2 separate regions of the Homo sapiens genome follow, and region 1 is linked to region 2. The links come from fine-mapping of genetic effects on gene expression. A gene starts in region 2. The other region holds a variant in brackets. All regions are shown on one strand. Distances are between the middles of the regions.

What was found. PIP is the estimated chance that this variant, and not a neighbour inherited with it, causes the effect.
Region 1: its variant is fine-mapped to the expression of EML4-AS1 in whole blood (TOPMed, PIP above 0.99).

Annotation. Positions count from the first base shown.
Region 1 is chr2:42,137,895-42,149,708 of GRCh38, forward strand. EML4-AS1 (EML4 antisense RNA 1) reads right to left here. Exons shown (of 4, transcript NR_110584.1): 3 at 9,757-9,946; 4 at 4,541-5,450. Among named protein-coding and RNA genes, the nearest start is that of EML4, 26 kb to the right of the region's middle. RefSeq lists an enhancer at 2,946-3,743 and a silencer at 3,315-3,609. The variant C/G (reference allele first, on the strand shown) is at 5,091.
Region 2 is chr2:42,163,298-42,175,111 of GRCh38, forward strand. It overlaps EML4-AS1 (EML4 antisense RNA 1), which reads right to left and starts at 6,934. Exons shown (of 4, transcript NR_110584.1): 1 at 6,673-6,934. It overlaps EML4 (EMAP like 4), which reads left to right and starts at 6,056. Exons shown (of 23, transcript NM_019063.5): 1 at 6,056-6,339. The coding sequence starts at 6,315. RefSeq lists enhancers at 5,638-5,777, 5,790-6,442 and silencers at 5,858-5,907, 6,008-6,067.

The DNA of each region.
Region 1 (11,814 bases), 25 kb before region 2:
TCTTATTTTATTTCATCTTATTTTATTTGAGACGGAGTCTTGCTTGGTCACCTAGGCTGGAGTGCAGTGGGGTGATCTCAGCTCACTGCAACCTCCACCTCCCGGGTTCAAGCAATTCTCCTGTCTCAGCCTCCTGAGTAGCTAGGGCTACAGGTGCCCACCATCACATCCGACTGATTTTTATATTTTTAGTAGAGATAAGGTTTCACCATATTGGTCAGGCTGGTCTCGAACTCCTGACCGTAGGTGATCACCCACCTTGGCTTCCCAAAGTGCTGGGATTACAGGCATGAGCCACCACGCCTGGCCCAGATACTCTCCTTTCTAGTCTCTTTTAAAGGTAGGATATGGACACATAACCGAGACTTGGCCAACAGGTGCAGCTGCTCCAGAAGGAATCAGAAATTACTGGCACCAACAAATACGGATCCCTTTTCACAGGAAACTGCAGGGCAGCAAAAATATACAAGCTCCCAGTGCAGTGGTGCTTATGGTGGTATCCAGTGTCTGCAGCTGAAGAGGGTGACAATGTAAGTTGTGGTCCAGCACTGGGCAGTGGCAACAGTGGTATCATCATCTTAGGCCCTGTGCTGTGATTGTACCTATAGCCTTGGCTGTGATCCTGAATTTCTGGTTCCTGTGTTTTTTGAGCCTATTTCTCTAGCCTTCCCAGTTTTTCTATGAGTTGCCCAATAGCATTTCAACAAATTATTTTTCTGTTTAAATCAATCAGAGTTGGTTTCTGTTGCTTGCAACTGAGAACCCTGATTCTGTCTAACTACAACTGGCTTCGGTCAGTCATTTGCAGATGCTTTTTCTCTTTCGCTGCCTGCATTCTTCATGCCTCTGCTCTCCTGGCAATTCCTCAAGTAATCCAGAAAAGGAGGAAAGAGCATGCAGAGAATTTGACCACAGCTGGGAAGTGAGCCAAGAGAACACTGAAGAACTTGACTATTAGATCTCCTACTTTGTTAGGTGGGGTGAATGCAATATTAATGAGACAGAAGGCTGTGAGCTGTCTGTCATTTTATTTTTTTATCTCTAACTTGGTTATACAATGATACAATTATTACCTATGGTACTTAAAGGCCTATGAAGGCATGGACCAAGTCTCCCTTGTTTGCCCCAGTATCTAGGTCATACTAGGTACTCAGTAAGTAGTAGTAGGGGATGATGATGGAAGTTTGAGAAACAGAATTCAGGGAAGAGAAGCTTAATATATCCTTAATGTCTTTAAAAAAAGAATTGTCTCATCTATGTGGGAGCTAAAGATTAAGGTCTGCAAGTCGAGCCAACACTGCGAATATGTGGTGGTGTTGATTGAGGAGCAAGAGCCTGGAGCTTTAGCCATCAGACATTCAAAAGCAGAAATGACATTCTCCCAGACAGACAGAGCCTAACTTGGGTCTAGCCCAGACAGGATGCCGGTCCATTTCTTCTTGGAAGGGGGCCCCAAGAATGCCTGCAAGCTGAATTGAGATGGATCTCCAAAAAGCATTTTGAATCAGTTTCAAATGCATTGGCAGTCTGGGGGAGTCAATGTGAGTCTAGATAACCAAGGGCAGGGTTTCAGCTCTCTTAAGCAGAAAATAACTTCAATGCATCTCTTTTTTTTTCTTTTTTTCTTTTTCTTTTTTTTTTTTTTTTGTTTTTCAGACAGAGTCTCACTCTGTCTCCCAGGCTGGAGTGCAGTGGTGCAATCTCAGCTCACTGCAATCTCCACCTCCCGGGTTCAAGCCATTCTCCTGCCTCAGCCTCCCAAGTAGGTGGGACTGTAGGCACCCACCACCACACCTGGCTAATTGCATCTCTTGTAGTAAGCTTAGTTTTGAGTAACACTCTCACCTGTCTCATCTGGATTTGGGTCCTTGAGGATGCATAGTTCCAAACTGACTCAGGTGCTAATTCTTGTTCATGGGATTAACTAATGAACCCTTACCTCAGGCAGGCCTCTTAATTACGTTGTTTAAGTTCTCATTTCCCAATTTTAAAATCCCTGGTTTCAAAATATAGGGTTTGAATTACTGTGCTCACCAATTTCTTATCTAAAATGTGACAATTCCTATTACTTCCCTTAAGGACAAGAGTATAGGCATGAGCCACCGCACCCGGCCTAGCAGTGGTAAATTTAAAAAAGGGAAAATAGGTCGAGTGCAGTGGCTCATGCCTGTAATCCTACCATTTTGGGAAGCCAACGTGGGCAGATCACTTGAGCCCAGGAGGTCGAGGCTGCCATGAGCCGAGATCACACCACTGCACTCCAGCCTAGGTGACAAAGTGAGATCCTGTCTCAAAAAAAAAAAAAAGATGGGAGGATGCTGACATCCTGTGACTTGTAAATACAATCTGACCTGGCACAATGGCTCACACCTCTAATCCCAGCACTTTGGGAGGCCGAGGCAGGCAGATCACATGAGGTCAGGAGTTCAAGACCAGCCTGCCAACATGGTGGAACCACGTCTCTACTAAAACAGGCATGCTGGTGTGTTTCTGTAGTCCCAGCTACTTGGGAGGCTGAGACATGAGAATCACTTGAACCCAAGAGGCAGAGGTTGCAGTGAGCCGAGACTGTGCCACTGCACTGCAGCCTGGGCAACAGAGCGAGACTCCATCTCAAAAAATAATAATAATAATTAAATTAAATAAACAAATAAATACAATCTATAACCAGTTGCAGAAACTGTAAACTGCTTTTTATGCTCAGCTTTCTTTGTTGCTGGAGCTGGATTGCCAGGGAACCTACTTCTAGCCCAGGCTTATCTTTAGATTCATATTGAACAGGAGAAGATGGTAAAGGGTAGCATGCCTCATACTGCCTGAGGCTGTTGGAGCAGAGAGCTATGAGATAGAACACACAGGCATATATTTTCTTTTAATTTTTTATGTACTTATTTATTTATTTTGAGATGGAGTCTCACTGTGTCACCAGGCTGGAGTGCAGTGGTGGGATCTCAGCTCACTGCAACCTCCACCTCCCCGGTTCAAGCAATTCTCCTGCCTCAGCCTCCCAAGTAATTGGGACTACAGGAGCACGCCACCACGCCCAGCTAATTTTTGTATTTTTAGTAGAGACGGTGTTTTACCATGTTGGCCAGGATGGTCTCAATCTCTTGACCTTGTGATCTGCTCGCCTTGGCCTCCCAAAGTGCTGGGATTACAGGCATGAGCCACCACGCCCAGCCACACAGGCATATATTTTAACTGTGCTGTCCAACTGGGTTTTAACATGTAGAATCTATGGCAAGTTGCTTTTGCTCAGTAAGGGTGCTGTGACTCTTTTTGTCCTGGGATTCAAGTGATAAGCAGATTTGAAGGTCATAAGTGACAGCAGACAGGATGGTCATCTTATTTCCTCTGCTTTCTCCCTGGAGAGGGGCCAGAGGACTCCAAAGAAAAGAGAGATGGGAATGGAAACAAACGAATCCCAGCAGGGGAGCAGGGAGGAGAGACGAAACGGCAGCCGACTTGAGAGCTCAGCTGCCAGCCAAAATCTGATGCTCTGCATTGCTCTGCATAAAGGAGCCCAGGCTTCCCAAATCCAGGCGCCCCAACATGATTGCAAAAGCCACACCCATCAGCCCACAGAAAGCCAACACTGCTGCAGAACCAGTGAGACACCTTGGGAGGCTGCCCGAGTTTCTGGAGATATCTGTGTAAAAGCTGCTTTCCTCCCTGGTGGATGCTTGAACCCCAGCAAGTGGTGGCGGACGGGACCCAGAGCTGCCATACCAAGATGGAAAAAAAAATTTTTAAGGAAAAGTTAATTTCAAGAATTATGTTCTCAGTTTTGTTGTAGGGCTAGTTGCCAATTCCTTTTCCCACTGGCAGCAGGCAGGGCTGACTGAGCCAGCACACAGAGGCTTCTCAATGAGCTTTGATGTCAACAAAGGTAGGCAGGGCAGGCCCCGGTGGAAAATTGTGAAGTCAGCAGAGTTATCTCCGGCACTCCTCCCTTCCCCTTGCTTCCCCTTTCTCCGCCCATTTCCCCCTCTCTCGGCTTCCAGCTTCTCATTTCCCAGGGGACCCTGTAATGTACGAAAACCCGATGTCATAAGATACGAGGGGCCGGCTTGTGGCTCCAGCTATCAAAGTCTGCTTTTTCTTCCCAAGTCTAAAACAAACAAAGGCATGCATTCCATACATTTCCTAAGAAAAGAGAGGGCACACAGAAACGTTGTCCTTCGTGTTCTCTCAGTTAAACCCCAAGAGTTTGGAGCCTCAAGTTTAAAGCTGTCCTCTTGCCTCCTGGGGTTTTAAGAAGATTCAAAAGTGCCTCAAACCAATACAGCTGCTTGGTTTATGGCTCAAATTTAAACCACAAATTATAAAATGATAAATTGCTGCTCAAGTCTCTTCCAGGAAAGACTATATTTTCAGATTAAGTTACAACCTCATGGACGTATGAGTGAGTCTAGCTGCTGACTAACTCTCACACTCATTTTCCCGCTGGAGATTTTTTTTTTTCTTCATGAACATTCACTGTTTCTAAATGCTTTAAACAAAGAAAATGACCGAAGGCAGGAAAAACATCAGGGACTTCTTAACCCATGGAGCTTTGTGCTTTATTATGTAATGGCTATTTTTATTTTATGAGAATCAAAGGAAGTTTAAGAAATATCTTTGTTCTTGAGCACTTACAGTAAGAAAGGGCTTCATGGGGGCGGCTACACGCACTTCAAACACTAGCTGGCATGTGAAGTGTGTAGTAAGTCAAAGCTGTTTTAGGGAATTTGGATGTTAAAGGATCTGTTCAGTGATTTGGGCAGGATTGCAACATCAATTACTGCATTTTGTTCCCATAAAAATAAATTCTTTGGAATTCTCTTATAGGGTCTGGTCCAGCAACAGAGAAGTATGACAGGTAATTAGGGTGCATGCATGCTTTGTTGTAATGAGTTCCCTGCCAGAGCTTTGGCAGGCAGGAGGTTAGGAGGAGAGATGAAATATGGACTTGTTTGAGGCAGCCATCTTGCCTCGCTGCAGGCTCCGTCACACAGACCTCATTTTGATCACCTGTGGCTGCAGGAGGCAGCTCCATAGTCCATCCTGCAGAGTACCTTGGTTATACAACTATGACCTGGTTTCTCCAA[C/G]GCCACTCCAGCCTTGAGGACCATGAGGCTGTGAGTCATAATCACCGTAGCATTTACTCCTAAATTCAACTCCTGCTTACTTTCCTCCTTGACTTTCCGTCCTCCCTTTCTTGGGCCACTCAGGTCCTTTTCTGATGTCATTTCACGCTATAGAGGCCCCCTGTAGCCACTGCAGGCCCCGCCATGGCTGCTCCTCTCTGCTTGTCTTGAAGTCTGTCCTCATTGCTGCTGCTTTTTCTGGGATACTTCAAATTGTGGAGAGAGTTCTTTTCCTGTGATTATAGCTCTTTCTTCCAATTTTGACTAGTCTGGCGTCTCTGTGATTATAGCTCATTAGGACTCCCAAGGCTAGAGAGGGCACTTAAAAAAAAAACAGTTGCCTTGTTTTTATTTTTTAAGATAACATTTATTATAACTTACTTTTGCAGAGCACTGTGAAAAAGAAAGTAATAATGGTCATTAATCCCACAGTCCAGATAACCCCTAACAGTATTTTTAAAAATAAAAGTAATACATACACAGGGGAAGAAAATTAAAACAGTAAAAAAAGGTATAAAAGGAAAAATACCTCTTCTGCCCTGAGTTTTTCCCCTAAAATATAACCAGTGTTACTATTTTTTTTGTGTGCATCCTTATTATGACATAGTTATGTATGTCCTCTAACAAAATTTTCCATGAGGGAGATCTTACTGTATTAATCATTCTGCATCTCATTATTTTCACCTTAAACACCATCTCAGAGATCTTTCAAACACGAGCTGCAGATATACTCTCTCTTTTTTTTTTTTTTTTTTTTGAGACAGTCTCTGTCGCCCAGGCTAGAGCGCAGTGGCGCGATCTTGGCTCTGCGACCTCTATCTCTCGGGTTCAAACAGTTCTCTGCCTCAGCCTCCTGAGTAGCTGGGATTACAGGTGCCTGTCACCACGCCCAGCTAATTTTTGTATTTTTAGTAGAGACGGGGTTTCACCATCTTGGCCAGGCTGGTCTTGAACTCCTGACCTCGTGATCCACCCACCTCAGCTTCCCAAAGTGCTGGGACTATAGGTGTGAGCCACAGTGCCCAGCCATACTCTCTACTTTTAATGTCTGCACAATCTTTGTTAGGAGAGAATGTGCCTTCCAAGTGAAAGGCACTCAGCTAACGTCATTCCTGGCCCCTTTCTGTCCCTTTACTTCCACCACCCCTTGAGTGCAGAGTGATTTATCTGATTATATAAATTGAACCTTTCAGGTTCAATTCTGCCCTTTTCTTCTTAGGATGGAGTTGCCTACCACTCCCCCAGAAGTGGGCAGAACTGGAGAATGTCTATCCAATTCGGGGTTTCCATAGTAGGAAGCCTATTTGTCTCTCAGTATGAGATAACACATGGTGCAGCATGCAAATTAGCCTTCATCAGAGAGATTTCTGCCTTCATCTGTCGTTTTCTCAGTTTGTTCAGATTCTGAACAGGGAAGAAGGCTGCTATGTATTGGGCCTTTTCAGAGTCCTCACATGTTATTCCTTATTTGTATGTATCAAAATGTATTTAATCAGTTTCCTTTTTTTTTTTTTTTCGAGACAAGGTCTTGCTTTGTCGCCCAGGCTGGAGTGCAGTGGCACAGTCTTGGCTCACTGCAGCCTCGACTTCCCAGGCTCAAATGATCCTCCCACCTCAGCCTCCCAAGTAGCTGGGACTACAGGCACATGTCACCCTACTCAGCTAATTTTTTTTGCCCAGGCTGGTCTTGAACTGCTGGGCTCAAGTGATCTGCCTGTCTCATCCTCCCAAAGTGCTGAGACTACAGGAGTGAGCCACCACACCCAACCAATCAGTTTCCTAATGATGGATGTTTAGGTGGTTTCCAGTTCATTGCTAGAACAAATAACACCTCAGTGAATATCTTTAAACGTATATCTTGGTAAACTTTTTGCAATCACATCAAAAAGTAGATTCCTGACCGGGCACAGTGGCTTACGCCTGTAATCCCAGCACTTTGGGAGGCTGAGGCTGGTAGATCACAAGGTCAGGAGTTCAAGACCAGCCTGGCCTAAATGGTGAAACCCTGTCTCTACTAAAAATAAATAAATAAATAAAAAATAAAAAGTAGATTCCTTACAGATATTGCTAGACCAAAGATGTGTCTTAGTGTCCCAAATAAAGATGGGAGAAAAAGATTACCCTCAACCTTAATATAAGTTGAAAAGGGGGTGCCTAGATAATATACTAATAATTATAATGGCAATAATTAACATTGATTTATTTCTTACTGTATGCCAGGTTCTGTGCTAAGCACTTTATGTATACTAATATTTTTAAATCCTCATAACAGCGTTATGAGAGTGACTATTATTATCTCAGGTGTTTTTTTTTTCTTTTTTTTTTTTTTTTTTGAGACGGAGTCTTGCTCTGGCCCCCAGGCTAGAGTGCAGTGGTGCAATCTCGGCTCACTGCAAGCTCCACCTCCTGGGTTCATGCCATTCTCCTGCCTCAGCCTCCCGAGTAGCTGGGACTACAGGCGCCCGCCACCACGCCCAGCTAATTTTTTGTATTTTTAGTAGAGACGGGGTTTCACCGTGTTAGCCAGGATGGTCTCGATCCCCTGACCTGGTGATCCACTCGCCTCAGCCTCCCAAAGTGCTGGGATTACAGGCGTGAGCCACTGCGCCTGGCCTATTATCTCAATTTTTTATAGTTGAGGATACAGAGATCAAAACTGTCAAATAACTAGCCCAAGATCACACAGCTAGTAACTAGCAGAGATGGAATTCAAGTCCATGTTTGTGCAATTTGAGAATTTATACCTCTAAGCACCAGACTAAAGGGTGTTCCCCATGGCACAGGGTGGTTAGTAGTCTGGTCTAGAATTTGAAAATGTGTGACGACCATTGGCTCAGATCTCAGCTCCCACATGCGTGTGTGTGTGTGTGTGTGTGTGTGTGTGTGTGTGTGTGTGTCTGTGTGTGTGTAATAATGATTAAGAACACAGAATCTGCAGTCAGACTATATGGGTTCAAATCCCACCTTTGTCTCTTATCAACTGTGGAATGACTACCTTAGTTTCCTCATCTGCAAAATGGAGACTTTTAAGAAGATTAGGTTATTTAATATTTGTAAAACACTAAGGAACACTGCCTGACATCAAGTAAATTTTTCATAAGTGTTTGTTATTCATTTATTTTACAATTATTTTTAATTCTAAAAGCAATATACAAATTCATATTTGTATAATACTCAATAATTCAAACAATATTCAGATATATATAATAATAAATGAAAGTCCCCCTCACCTTAAGCTTCTGCCACCACCTGACGCCACTGATTCCCATTCTTCCCTTTATAGATTAATGGTTAGTGTCTATGCCTTCAGACCTTGTTGTTTTTAACATGCATTTTTCTTTTTACGTATGTAGTTTTATTTGTACACAACTGAGATTATTCTACTGGGAGAGTAGCTTAGCATAGTGATTAATAAATGGACACTGGCGCAACTTTGTCTGAATTCAAGTCCCAGCTCATCTATCTACCCACTGTGTGACCTGAGACAAGTACCCTAACCTCTGAGACTCAGTTTTCTCATTAATTTCCACAATGAAAAATGACAAGTACCTGACTTATTATGGAGATTAAATGAGTTAATATACGTAGAGCTCTTAAAACAGTGCCCGACACAAAAAATATTCAGTAAATGTTAGTTCTTATAATTACTCCTACATGTGCTGTACTGGGACTTGCTCTGTCTCTTTAACAATATATCTTACAGGTTATCCCACAACAGCATATATAAAAATGCCTCATTTAAAAGCGGCTATAGGACAAGCAGGGTGGCTCATGCCTGTAATCCCAGAACTTTGGGAGGCTGAGGTGGGTGGACTGCTTTGAGCTCAGGAGTTCAAGACCAGCCTAGGCAACATGGTGAAACCTTGTCTCTCAAAAAAAATAAATAAACAAACAAACAAACAAACAAATTAGCCAGGCATGGTGGCACACACTGTAATCCCAGCTACTTGGGAGGCTGAGGCTGGAGAATCACTTAAACCTGGGAGGTGGAAGTTGCAGTGAGCCAAGATGGTGCCACGCACTCCAGCCTGAGTGACCCAGTAAGACCCTGTCTCAAGATTTAAAAAAAAAAAAAAAAAGTGGCTACATAGTGTTTCATAGTACAACCATATTGCAGTTTATTTAGATTTGCCCCAATTTGGGTTGTTTCTAGCATTTGTATTCTTTCTCATGTGAGAATGTAGAATTCTAGAGTGAATACCAGTCATCAGTATATTCCACTTTATTTAACAAACATATATGTCACTTACTACATGTCAATTTCCTAATCATCTTACTCATTTAATACTTATATTAACTCTATTAAAGTAGGGGCTATTTAATCCCTATATAACAGATGGGGAAATTGAGGCACTGGGTAGTTAAGTAACCTGCCCAGGATAGCATGGCCAGGAAGCTGGGGACTGGGATTCCAACCCAGGCAGTCTGGCTCCTGAGTCCATGCTCTTCACCACCACACTCAGAACCTCTCTTCTGTGTTCTAAAATCTGTGGCCTGCACTTCATTAGAACCCCAAGCCTCATCTCATCACAGTTTGCACCTATACTGTGGATGGGAATTCACCGTCTTTGGAATACACTTAGGAATATACAAGTAATGTAAGGGATAACATGATTGCTAAACCAACCTGATTCTTTGAACTACCAGAAGCGAGCCTGTCTAAGGACTGCTCCTGACAACAGCCAGCCAGCATTGAGAAAGCTCTTCAGCGATGATACCAGCACGTTCCTCCAGAGGCCCCGGGTCTGGTCTCTCAACTGTGCTTCTGTGCCACGCTGGCCCACTGAGCAAACTCACAATGCAGGGCAGCAGACAGCCTTAAAATAAACAAACATGTTTTTGTTGTGCCTGGTTAGGGAACAGTATCTATCCAATTAGGTAGTAGAAAACTCATGTAAATAATCTGTCCTTTTTTTTCAATTCCTGCTATGTGGGAGTCTTTCACAACTGACTTGGCCAACTCAAATTCCTAAAATGCTAAGGTTCAGAAAGTCTGGTCAAAATTTGCTAGTAAAATATGAAACTCTGTCTTCTCTGTCCTCTATCCCCCACCCCTACCCTCAAGCTACTTTAGCTTTCAAACATGTATGAAATGCTTTTTTCTTTAAAGATATGGGTGAGCTATTTCTTTTGGAGTATGTCCAGATGATCTGGCAAATGCACACTTGGCATTAGCCACAGGGAAGCACATTAAAAAAAAAAAACCAGAGGAGCAACAAATAAAATTAGGGCAGACTATGGGCCTACCCTTCATACAAATCAGAACATCTTTCCAAGTGGAAAACTTCATGAAACTCGGTGGGTTTAATTTTTTTTTCTTTTGCTTTGTTAATGGAAAAATATACATTCACAGACACATGTAATTTAATATTCTGGAAAGTTCTGACATTAATGATAAGAGTTTACATTTTAATTTCAAATATTATTGCTCATTCTAACATATTAAAACCTGCATTTTTCCTTTTATAAATATACTTCTATCTCTGGGTTGTGTCCTTATGAAAAGAAGTACCGAAAGCCAGTCTTTCACTCATCCCAAAGCTTAACTTTTGGCTCAAGGAGCTTCCTATCCTGTTCCAGCTGTGACATGTTGAAAGTAGACTTGGAAATTGTGGACAATTTGCTATACTCTATGAATCTTTGCTGTGGTTCTACTCCTTTGCATTTTAGGAAATAAGGTAGGAGACAGGGAGTTGTATCAGGCCATTCTTGCATTGCTATAAAGAAATACCTGAGACTGGGTAACTTATAAAGAAAACAGGTTTAATTAGCTCATGGTTCTGCAGGCTTTAAAGGAAACATCATGCTGGCATCTGCTGGGCTTCTGGTAAAGTCTCAGGGAGCTTTCAATCATGGCAGAAGACAAAGCGAGAGCAGGCACTTCACATGGCAAAAGCAGGAGGAAGAGAGAAAGAGAGAGAGTGGGAGGGTGGTGCCACACACTTTTACATAACCAGATCTCACAAGAACTCACTATCAGGAAGACAGCATCAGGCTATGAGGGATCCACCCTCATGATCCAAACACCTCCCACCAGGTACTACCTCCAGCATTGGGGATTACAATTTAATATAAGATTTGGGTGGGGACAAATATCCAAAACTGTATCAAGAGGGAATCATGGGGAGAGGCTCTGATAGGAACAGGGAATGGGTCCTGTTCAGGGACTCCTTTCTACTTTTACTGTTCACATCATCCAAAGGGACAAACTGCCTTTACAACATATGTTTAATCCAACTCCTCTCACAGAGAGATAGTTGAGCAAGGTGTAGACTGGTTTGGGATGGAACAATAGGCTAGTCTTACCCTTGATCACAGCACATAAAGCTGGATATTGAATACAGGAAACGATGTAGCAGCAGATTATTAAGACCAAAGACAGGCCAGGCACGGTGGCTCACACCTGTAATCCCAGCACTTTGGGAGGCAGAGGCAGGCGGATCACCTGAGGTCAGGAGTTCAAGACCAGTCTGGACAACATGGTGAAACCGTCTCTACAAAAAATACAAAAATTAGCCAGACGCAGTGGCACTTGCCTGTAGTCCCAGCTACTCGGGAGGCTGAGGCAGGAGAATCACTTGAACCTGGGAGGCAGAGGTTGCAGAGAGCCAAGATAGCACCACAACCTCGGCAACAGAGTAAGACTGTCCCCCACACCCTCCCCCCGACAAAAAAAAACCAAAGA
Region 2 (11,814 bases):
GCTTCCAACTTCCATCATTAAAAAAAAAAAAAAAAAAAACAACCTTTTGGCTCCTTTTGGTTCTGTGATAGGGCACTAGCAGGATTTGCCTTCTATTGCTGTTATTGTTTCTTCTCTGACACCTTCTCTTGCCTCCTAAATATTGGAGGTCCCTCAAGTTCTACATTCTGCTCATTTCCATTTTTTCCCTTAAATCTTTTTCCTCTAAGATTTCTCATAGCTTAAACCATCGGCTCTATTGAGAAGTCTCCTGCGTGTATATTCCCAGACCCAACCCGCTCCTAAACCACAGTCCACATTTCAAACTGTGTGCTGGAGGCTTCCATCTGGACATCTGGTTATGACGCCAAGCACAATCTGTTTAAAACTGAACGCAGCACTTGTACCACTCAGAGTTCTCTATTGCAAACAACAGAAACCCACTCTGGCTGACTCAAGCAGAAAACAAATTCGCTGGGAGGATATCAGGTAGCTCCTTCAGTCGATGGGAAGATCAGAGGGCCAGGCACAGAAAATGGGCAGAAACCCAGGCAGTGTAGGGCACAGAGAGCATGGGCAAGTTTACTCTTTAGGACTCTAGTGAGGACGCTGCCCTGGAGTGGGCTGCCCTACTTCCTACCTCTGCACACCATCACTGTTGCTCTTCAATTTCTCAACTATCTTCAAGCATGGTCTCTGACTGCTAGTTTTTGTATCACTGCCCCCCAACTCATCCCTGCCATTAAAAGACCTGGGTTGAGGCATTCACTTGGCCTAGGTCATGTGCCTGGGCCCCAGCTGTCAAAGATGACCTCTGATTCCCTTCAGCTTCCCACAAAGGTTAATTCATCACTGTATTTTCTTTTCTCCAGTCACATCATTTCTTTAAGTTCCCATTTTAATATAATGCTGCCATTATTCTCTCCATCACTGGGAGCTGAACCTGGATAACCTGTTTTACTCCCTCCTCTTCCTTAGCTTCTGAGGCAATCAGTCCACCCAGCTCTGCGAGGGTTTTGTTTGTTGTTAATTCATGTTTTCCTTCACAAGATTTTTTTTTTCTTGGCGCTTTCTGCAGCTACTGCTTCACTGCAAGTCTCCTAATTGGATTCCCCACTTCCAGTGCCTCTTCCAATGTGTCCACCCGGTTTAATCTTCCTAAAGCAATGCTTTGATCATATCACTTTGCTGCTAAAACTGCATTGTTGATAGGCGTCTCAGTCTGGTGTTCAAGGATCTCCACAACAGAATCCCATTGAGCCCAAAAGGCAAACTGGTGCAGCGAAGAGTTTGATTTTCAGATGTAGATGGATATGGGTTCAAAACTTGATTTTCCCATTTTATAGTTTTATACTCTTGAGGCTCATTTTCCCTGTCTGAAAAATGGGGATAATGAAACCTACCACTTAAGGACCTTCATAAGTCAGAACTTTGAAAGTTGAAACGGTATTATATGTTGTATTTAGGTTGCAACATCAACCCACAGATGCTTATAATAGGCAATATTCAATTTCAGACCTGTCTGGTTCAAAACCTTAAGTAAGGCTGTCATCAGTGTGGTTTAACGCAGGCAGGTTAGGATCAGCATGCTACATGTTTTTGGGGCTAAGTGGCAATCTAACCACCAATTATGGCATTATTACTAATTTCAAACTGCTGACTTACAAATGACCTTTTGGAAATATTTTATTTGCAAGTAGAGAACTTCCTGTGTTATTAATTTTGAGAATTGAATTTCCTTGATTGGCTGCTTTCCACTCTAATATTTCTATTTAAAAGTATTTCCCTGCAGAATATCAATTTTGTAAGGGATTGTTATGAACTCTTCATGGAGAAAAATTTTACATTTATGATGGACACATGAAAATTATTAGCTATTATCTCTAAGGCTTGCGCAACATCCAGTAAATGTAGTAAAGCTATAACACATAAAAAGAAACTTTAAAGTTTGTTCCACAATCTCAACAAGTTCAAATCTCATTTCATGGCATAAATTCTGAATTAGCATTGGGAAAACTTAGCTCTGCAGGCAAGGCTAGTTGTCTTCTTTCTGTAGGTCATGGATGGCACCATGAGAAATGCCAAAATTAACCTCAATAGGCATTCGTTCACTCACTCATGCATCTATGCAGCAGGTCCTCCAAGTGAGGTATGGCTTGTGATCCCCACAGGATAGATTTCAGTCTCATAAGTTCTCACCAAGAATTTACAGCACTACTAATTGCTTGATTCTTTCCTGAAGTCAGCAAGTCTGGAAAGTCTTACGAGAGAGATAACCATCATGCCAAGATTGGTAAAACAGTTATTAAATAAGTATGATATTTTAAACCAGTCTCTACAGACACAGTTTATGAGTGTCTAAATATGCAGTGAAATATATTTTTTGTTTTTGCATTTTAATGTTTTCAAAAAATGAATACTTCTATGATTAAAATAAAATAAAAGTGAAATCCCCCATATCTCTCCTCTACCCTTTCCTTCTTCCACTTAATTTCATTTCTCAGAGGCAGCTACTTTTGACACTTTGGGGTATCTCCTCTCAAACTCCTTTTATTTCTCTTGCAATAATTTTGAAGTTCTCCCTAGGCATTCTTTATGGTTAGAAGCTAGAATAACATTGCCATTTAGCTTCTTATAGATTTTGGAATTCTTTTACACACTGCTTACATTAAACATATTATAAAAATGAAGAATCCCTTTTTTCCCCCACTCAGGTATTAACTCTGATTTTTTTCTATCAAATTTGTGCTTACATGGACTACAGGTTTATACAATCTATATAGTTCCATGACTATAGGGTTTCATTTTTTAAATAACATTCAAATAATGAAATAAAAGGAACTGAAGACACAGCATACTTAAAAAAAACCCTTAATTTTCCTTGGCATTTATTTTAAAATGTCTGCGGGAGAGAAAAGCAAGCAGACAAAAACAGTTTATAGTTACTTTTCAAGATCATCTAGCTAGTGAGAGTAAAACAAAGAAATTGAATAGGAATCTTATTTTTCTTCAAACGTTAGGTCAAGACTTTGACAATGTATCTTCACAAGTATTCTGAAACTCCTCCCACAACATACTAACCTTGACATAGAGGGGAAGGTAAGTATGCAGAGTCAAGATTCGATGTATAAAGAGAATGTTCTGGCCAGGCATGGTGGCTGAAGCCTGTAATCCCAGCACTTCAGGAGGCCAAGGCTAGGCGAATCACTTGAGGTGAGGAGTTCGAGACCAGCCTGGGCAACATGGCCAAACCCTGTCTCTACTAAAAATACAAAAATTAGCTGGGCATGGTGGTGCACAACTGTAATCCCAGCTACTTGGGAGGCTGAGGCATGCTAATTGCTTGAACCCGGGGAAGCGGAGGTTGCCGTGAGCTGAGATCGTGCCACTGCACTCCAGCCTGGGCAACAGAGTGAGACCCTGTTTCAAAAACCAAAACCATAAAGGGAATGTTCTAAGTTTTCATTATTTGATACAGCTATATTTAGCCTTTTCCAATAACTGGGATCCTGAAAAACGGCACATATTTTGCATTTGCCTGAATTAAGTTATACTTAAGGAGCTCAAAGGGGCAATGGAACTCCACATTGAAAATAATCTAAAGATAAATCCTTTGTTAAGGTGAATAACCAAAATAACCCTCCAGTAATTCGTAACTGTTTAGAACCTTAGTATTTGTGTGTGTGTTTGATAATGTTCAGCTATGGTTTCACTTTTGAAAGATGTATGTTAAATTTTATTTTATCATAGTAGTATTAGAGGCTTAGATTGCAAGATGTACTTTGATAAATATAAAACAAAAATTCTGGCTGCTTTAAAACACTCAGGCACTGGTTGTTGAAACAATGTATTCAGATTGACTAGTTTTCAGAATTCTTCTATGTTTGTTCATTATTCAATAAATATTTATCAAAAAGCTGTTCTGTAATATGCACTAAGTATATAATAGAGAGCAAAAACAGGTACAAAATAAGAGCAGCTAATACCTACTGAGCACTTATAACATATTGTGCCCTGTTTTAAGTGCTTTACATATATTACCTCATAGCATCCTCTCAAAAACTCTAAGAAGTAGAAGTGTTATCATCTCCATTTTGCAGTCAATAAAATGGAGGCACAGAGAGGTTAGGTAATTTGTCCAGTGTTTCATAGCTAGTACATGATGAGTTGGGATGTGAATCTGGGCAGCATGATTCCAGAGTCTGCACTCTTAACTGCTGGGATGTACTAACTCTCCTACATTTTAACAGCTTTCCTTGTAGTATACAGTATAATGAATGAGATGCTTATTGAATAAATCATTCAAGCAAATGAAAAATTTTAACTCTGATGAATGCCACGAAGGGGAGTGTGGCAGAAACCAGAGAGCTGTTACCAAAATATGTCTCTTTTCCTTCTGGATACACAGACTACATTCCTAGCCTCCCTTGCAGTCATGTGACCAAGTTCTGGCCAGTGGAATGTGGACAAAAGGGAGGTACACACTTCCAGGTCTGGACCATAAAACATATGTATACCAATATGCCAAGTTCTTATTCTTTTAATCGACCTAAGGCAGAGAGTGTGGCCTGAAGACACAAAGGAACAGCTGTCAGAATTGAGAACTTCTCAAACATTTACTTAGGCTTAATAGAAACTTATGCATATGAAAATGCCCATAGCAGAAGGAACATTGGGTAAATCATTTAAGTTTGAAGAGAAGGAAATTTTAGACACCGTTTAGTCTGTAACCTGAATTTATCTTGGCTGCGTTATGGCCAGTCTCCATATAGTATGGTATTCAGAAACAGGTCTTATATCCAAATAAGAAATGCAAAGTAATTTACATTTTTAGGGAAGATTTTTAAAGAGGCAACAAAGGGAGACGTATACCCCAAGAAGGTTTAACAATCCTTTCAATCATTTAATTCCTCTAAGTCTCTCTCATCATTACATATTTCTTGTCTCCCTTCTTGTTTGTCCCTCTCTCCTGCAACTCTGTGTAGTAGGACTCTGTTTTCCCCTAACTCAGCTTTTTATTATGTATTTATCAATTTATTATGTATAGATCAATTCAGTTCTTCAGTACCTTACAGCTCTTCTCTCTCTTACTCTAATCTGCACAACTGAGCCCCAGGAGGGACTTGACAAACCATGAGAAAGTCTTTAGAAGTATGGGAAATCGTGTTGGGGAAGGGAGGAAGAATATGAACGCTATGTATATTTACATGTTTTGGTTACATGTCCAGACAACCAATTTGCAAATGAATAAAGTGACGCCTAAATAAATTAGGTGATTTGACACTCTTGAGTCATACGGAGTTGGGCCTAGAACTCAGTGTTACTTCATTTGAAATAACCCTTATTATGGTTCCCTAGCAGGCCATCCTATAGCCTGCCATATATGGTCGTTTTGCACCCCTAGACGACAGAACGCTAGGGAGAGTAAGGAAGGCTGAGTTTTTGCTTCTACTAGGTTCGATGACCTTGGGCAGGTTGTCCTCTCTAAGGCTCTGTGTTTTTCTTCATAAGAAGGGTTAGACAAGATGAACTTTTGGGTCATGTCCAGCACTAAAATTCCTTGCTTCTGATCTGTCCCGGGCCCTGCGGCTGTGGCAGTGGTGGTATCGAGCTAGTCAAGAAGCTTCGCCCCTATTTGTCCCCCACCCTATTGGGGGAGAGGGAGAACCTCTCCCTCTTGGTTGCTTCTTTAGTGTCCTTGTAGGACCCACGTGGTGGTCATCTCCCGTCACGGGGGTCCAGTCTTGGCTCTGCGGGCTTCCCAGGGGCCACATAGGGAGAGGATCCTTCATGCATCAGAGTATCGCAGGCCAGAGTCTATGCCTTATCCCCACCTGTTTGGAACCAGCTTCCAAACCGTGGTCCCCAGCCTTCAGCAGGCCTACCGCGCAGGCGCAACCACCAGCCTGGCGCGAGGCGGACAAACGCCGAGGCCGAGGCAAGGTGAGAGGGCGGGGCTGGCAAGACCCCGCCTCCGTGGCGTCACGTGGGAGGCGGAGTCGGAAGTGTGACGGCGTGCGCGGGGCGGGGCTACTGCTGCGCGCGGGCGCGGGGGCGGGGCGGGGCGCGGCGCGGCGCGGCGCTCGCGGCTGCTGCCTGGGAGGGAGGCCGGGCAGGCGGCTGAGCGGCGCGGCTCTCAACGTGACGGGGAAGTGGTTCGGGCGGCCGCGGCTTACTACCCCAGGGCGAACGGACGGACGACGGAGGCGGGAGCCGGTAGCCGAGCCGGGCGACCTAGAGAACGAGCGGGTCAGGCTCAGCGTCGGCCACTCTGTCGGTCCGCTGAATGAAGTGCCCGCCCCTCTAAGCCCGGAGCCCGGCGCTTTCCCCGCAAGATGGACGGTTTCGCCGGCAGTCTCGGTGAGTACGGCTGGGGAGTCCTGCGTCTTCTGCGAAGGGTAGGAACTTTTTTCCTTCCGCACACAGCCCAGGCCCTGCCCTCCCGCCTGCCCCTCGGGGTGGCAGCGGCTCCACTGCACATGTTCCCTTCGAGGCTGCCGCCCCTCCGCGGACTCCGGTGGACTGAGGGCCCCTCCCCCATGTCCAACTCTCCTCTGTGTCAGACCCTCCTTTCCTCCCGGAGCCCCTTTCAGTGCGGGGCCCTCGTTCCCCCAAAGTGGGAACCCCTTCCTTCTCAGGCCCCCCGATAGCTGGCACACCCCTCCCCGTACACTCACGGCTCCCTCCACTTACCCCCCTTCAGAGTTGGGACATTTCTTCAAATCCAGGCTCCTCTTCAGGGTACAACCTTCCACCACCTTTCCACATACACGCCTCTCTTTCAGGGTGGGGATCGCCTTCACCCGAACAGAGGCTCCTTTTTAGGGGAGGGACCCTCATTCCCTCTTCAGGAAGGGGGCATCCCCCGCCCCCAAGTCTTCACTTTAGATTTGAAGGCGACTTTCCAGTATCCTTCAGAGTAGTAGGCAACTTCCTTTTCAATCCCTCCACTTCTCTGAGCATTTTGCAGTGGTGGAGAGACCTAGAAGCATCGGAGCATCATTTGCTTAATGCAGGAAAGGAAGAGGTGCATCTGTGTTGGGGGACCCTCTTTAAGAGTGAAAGCAGAAGTGTTTTCTGGTTCTGCATACATGCTGGGGAGAAGTGATTCTGCCCAATGAATCAATAGGAAAGGGGGCCTCTATCAGGGAAGGAAAGGATTCTCCATTTTTGGAAGATGTTGTCTTTGTGGAATGGAGAAAGGGAAGAGGTTATTAAATAGGCTGAAGTGCCTTTTCAGTGTTCCTTTCACCAGATGAAGGTAATCTTCTGGCTAGGAAAATCAAAACTCCAGGCTAGTATTCGCTGCCCTAGAAGCTGAATCTGGAATTACTATTCTTCGAGGCCATTGAAATCTAGTAAAAGATTAAGTTCAACTGTTAGAATGGTGAGAGAAACAGTTTCAGCTTTGGCTGATAACGCAGTTGTGTGATACCTACTGCTGGAACTGTATTTTGAGTTTTTTATGTGCAGGTAGCTTGTATTCAGACGCCTTTCTTTTACATTTCTTGATAATAAGTCTCTACTTGGTTAATGTTCACTGATCAGTGAGCAGTCTGGCCATAGGCCGTACTATATCCAGATAATATCGAGATGAGATGGATTTTTAAAATCTAAAGTAAAAAAGTAAGTCAAAGAGCAATGGGCCTATTATAGATATTAAATAGTAAAACCTATAATTTTGGCCTTCCCTTTTTCTTGGGCAGAAAAAATTGTCGTTATATTGCTTTCAGAGTGGAAATCCTAAAATAGGAGGCAACTGAGTGTTGTGTTACTCTTTCCTCCTCAAAGGCACCTGTTGTCCATTATCTAACCTTTGATGTCTTGTAATTCCTTACTTAGGTTGGGCTCTTTTTAGAGAGACATCCATTTTTCCCTGGTTCTTTTTTAGCTCCATGCGTTGGTTTATTCACAGTAAGTGTTGGACCGAAAAACTTGTCCTATATGTCCGCTGAAGGGCTGATCTTATACTAAAGTAAAAATTGAGTGTCTTCTTAGGGGATGTTGTGGAGAGCTGTGCTATCTTTATACTGTATTGGGTCCTCATCCTGTAGGAGTGGTGAGATCACTTTAACTTCTTTCGTGTTGGCTCTAAAGATTTCTGGAGGGCTTGTTAAAGCTTCATCTTCTGTAAGTGTTTAGGAGGAGTCTTTCTCACCAGTTGGGGCACTTAATGTTTATTTTCAAACATTGATTATGCTTTGTAATAGCTTTCTTCTTTCTTAACCAGTTTATGAGGCAAGTGATACAAAAGACCGAGAGATGAAGATGAATTGCAGTTGGGGCTCACACTTTTCATAAAGAGCGTCATTGTTGACCCTAATGTTGGATTTAAAAAATTCATTTGATGCCATGCTTTGGGTGGTATGTGATGAGACTTTCCTTTAGATATGGTGTTAATCAGGAGCAGAGGAGATATGCCTATCAGAGGAACCTGCATCTGCAGAGAGGGAAGGAAATGGTTCCTGGCAGTATTTCTGGAGCTGTTCTTGATGAAGATACTTCTCAGTGGGAGCTCTGTGCTTTCTCTTTCTGTCCCCCTTGCAAGAGTAAAACTAGGCCCCATCTTAATTGAAACCTTAAAGGGGTGGGGGAGGAGTAGTGCTGGTATATTTTACTGGTAGTCTTTAAGCGGAGCTTTGCTCAGCTCTTGCCAAATTGCTTGTTTCTGTTCTCTGCAGTTAATTAGCCTAGAGCTTAGAGTTACATTGATCTTTATTTTACCATCAGGAGAGCCATGAATATAAAGGCAAGCACTTCTACTCTAGTAGGTGTTTAAAAACTTTTTTTTTTTTTAAACAAGAAGTCAAAACGTGAAGTTCTTCTGGGGTTACAACTATTGAAAGCATTTATTCTCAAGGAAGTATGTGTGTATTTCCTTTTACATATTAGATAGATTCTTGAAAAATGGTGAAAAAACTACATTTTTATAAGCAGAAAAATTGAGTACTTTATAAACAGAATAATTTTAGAGAAGAGATTATTTCAGAGAATCCTATGGTGACTCATTTTGTGAAGTGAAAACTTAAAATTCAAACTGTACCCTTGATTGTTGCATGTTTAGATAAGAAATCCACTGTGTTATGTGCATTTTATAAGATGTCTAATGGCAATTAAGACTAGGTAGTGGTTTTTTAAATCATAGGAATGATAAGTGATTGGCCATTTTATAAATGCCACATTGAAGTTACATGGTACTGATTATGTTATCTTTGTTTTACATAAAAAACAAGTGAAGAATTCTTTTAATCTCCGCAGCTGATGAATTTCAGGCAACTTGGCTGGCAGGTGCTTGTACTCTGGAATTTCCCTTAGGTATTATTAATATATCTTTTAATCCACAAATTATGGTAACTTAAGGCAGCACTTTAGAAACCTTTTTTTTTTTAAACTTAGGAGAGAAAAGTACTCAATTACCTTGATGTGTTGCCTCTAAATCACTACATATAGATACCCATGTGCAAAATGTATATACTGTATGTATATTAAATCTCAGGTCTATGTGCAAAAGTGGGAAGCTATTCATACAGCTTTTACCGATTTTTTATAAGGCAGGGATTGGGTGCATTTCATGCTTAATCTTTTTAGAATCTCTTTCATAATAGAGGTTTAATTTTAAGACTTTTATCTTGGAATTAACCTAGAGATTAGTCTGTTTTCACTTGAAAGAAACCTTATACCTAACCAGTCAGCTTTAAATTTTTCTGCCTCAAAAGTTAAACAACAAAACTTAAAATCTTCTTCCCCCTAAGAAAAATCATAGTGAATGAAATTGTTGGATTAGGATCTATAAGAAACAACATTCTGGGTACAGGTTGTAAATGTGAACAAGTATAGCAGTATGCTTCAACTTATGGACTATTCAGAAATTAGTCTTTTTAACATCACATTGTTAGAACTGTGATTTCTCATCACAGATAATAGTCTTGCTTTCTTAAAGGAACAATGCTGTATATGATTTTCACATATTAATCTAAAGCATTCCTTATTTACATGAAAATGTTTTTCATGTAATATTTGGAGAGGTTTTTTTTTTAAACTTTTTTTATTGGTTGCCTCTTGAAGAGTTCAAGATAGACTCAAGTTGTGTAACCAGACATGAGTAGTAACTCTTAAATGGTTAGTAGAGCATCTTCAACATGAGTTAGCTAGAGTGTTTTTCAACATATGTATGGATTAACATCGAACATGGGCTAGCACTATGCTTGGTGGTTCTTATGGGAAAGACAAGTAAAAGACATGCTTTTTGCCCTTTAGGAGCTTACTGCCTGGTTTTTAAATAAGTACCATGACTAGGTGCAGTGGCTCACGCCTGTAGTCCCAGCACTTTGGGAGGCTGAGGTGGAAGGATCGATTGAGCCCAGTAGTTTGAGACCAGCCTGGGCAACATAGCAAGACCCTGTCTCTGCAAAAAAAACAAAAATAGGCATAGTGGCATGTGCCTGTAACCCCAGCTACTTGGGAGGCTGAGGCAGGAGGATCACTTGAGCACAGGAGTTGAAGGTTGCAGTGAGCTATGATTGTACCACTGCACTCCACTGGGCCACAGAGCAAACCTCTGCCTCTAAAAAATAAATAAATAAATAAAGTATGTACTGTATGTAGAGATGTTTATTATTAAGCCTAAGTACCAGAAATGGGGATGAAGGGAGGAAGCACCATTTAGAATGCTGTGCTATGTTTCAAGCAAGTAACTTCTGAGAGAACATTTGTTGATTGCTAGATTTATCTCTGCAGAGCTTGGCTTTTTAAAACAATGAAATAATTTAGCAGTTTAAATTCTAGGGAGTCTTTTTCTGTCTTATGTGTAAGTTGGAATAACATGTAGCAAAATACTGTATTTTGTATGTGGGAGTCCATTTCTGTAACATGTAAAACTTCAATATTCATAAGAAATTTTAGAAAAATATTTTGATTTTTAAAATAGATTCTAATACTTGTAAAAAGTTTAGGGAAAGAATCTACTTCATCTAGTATTACCTCAGTGTGGAAGATTCCCAAATCTATAGTATATTTCTTTGTGTGTGTGTGTCTGACGGAGTCTTGCTCTGTCTCCCAGGCTGGAGTACAATGGCACGATCTCAGCTCACTGCAACCTCTGCCTCCTGGGTTCAAGCGATTCTCCTGCCTCAGCCTCCTGAGTAGCTGGGATTACAGTTGTGTACCACCACACCTGGCTAATTTTTGTATTTTTAGTAGAGACAGGTTTTCACTATGTTGGCCAGGCTGGTCTCAAACCCCTGACCTCGGGTGATGGCCACGCACCTTGGCCTCCCAAAGTTCTGGGATTACAGGTGTGAGCCACTGTGCCTGACCCTGTAGTATATTTGTATGTCGGTATATGATCTCTTGTCCTTTAGCTGTCTTAGGCTTTTATAATACCTTAATTTTGCATGCTGTATATGATTTTTAAATATTATTTTAAAGCATTCCTTATTTACAGTTTACAAAGAGCTTTTATCTCATTTAATTTGCATACTAACCTTGGGAGATAAATTATTATACTTTTATAGGTGAAAAAGGTCTAGAAAGTGGTTTTTTTTTGTTTGTTTGTTTTTTGAGACAGAGTCTTGCTCTGTTGCCCAGGCTGGAGTGCAATGGCGCGATCTCGGCTCACTGCAGCCTCCGCCTCCCGGGTTTAGGCAGTTATCTGCCTCAGCCTCCCTAGTAGCTGGGATTACAGGTGCCCGCCAGCATGTCTGGCTAATTTTTGTATTTTTAGTAGAGACGGGGTTTCACCATCTTGGCCAGGCTGGTCTTGAACTCCTGACCTTGTGTGATCCACCCACCTTGGCCTCCCTTACAGGTGTGAGCCACCGTGCCTGGCCGTGTTTT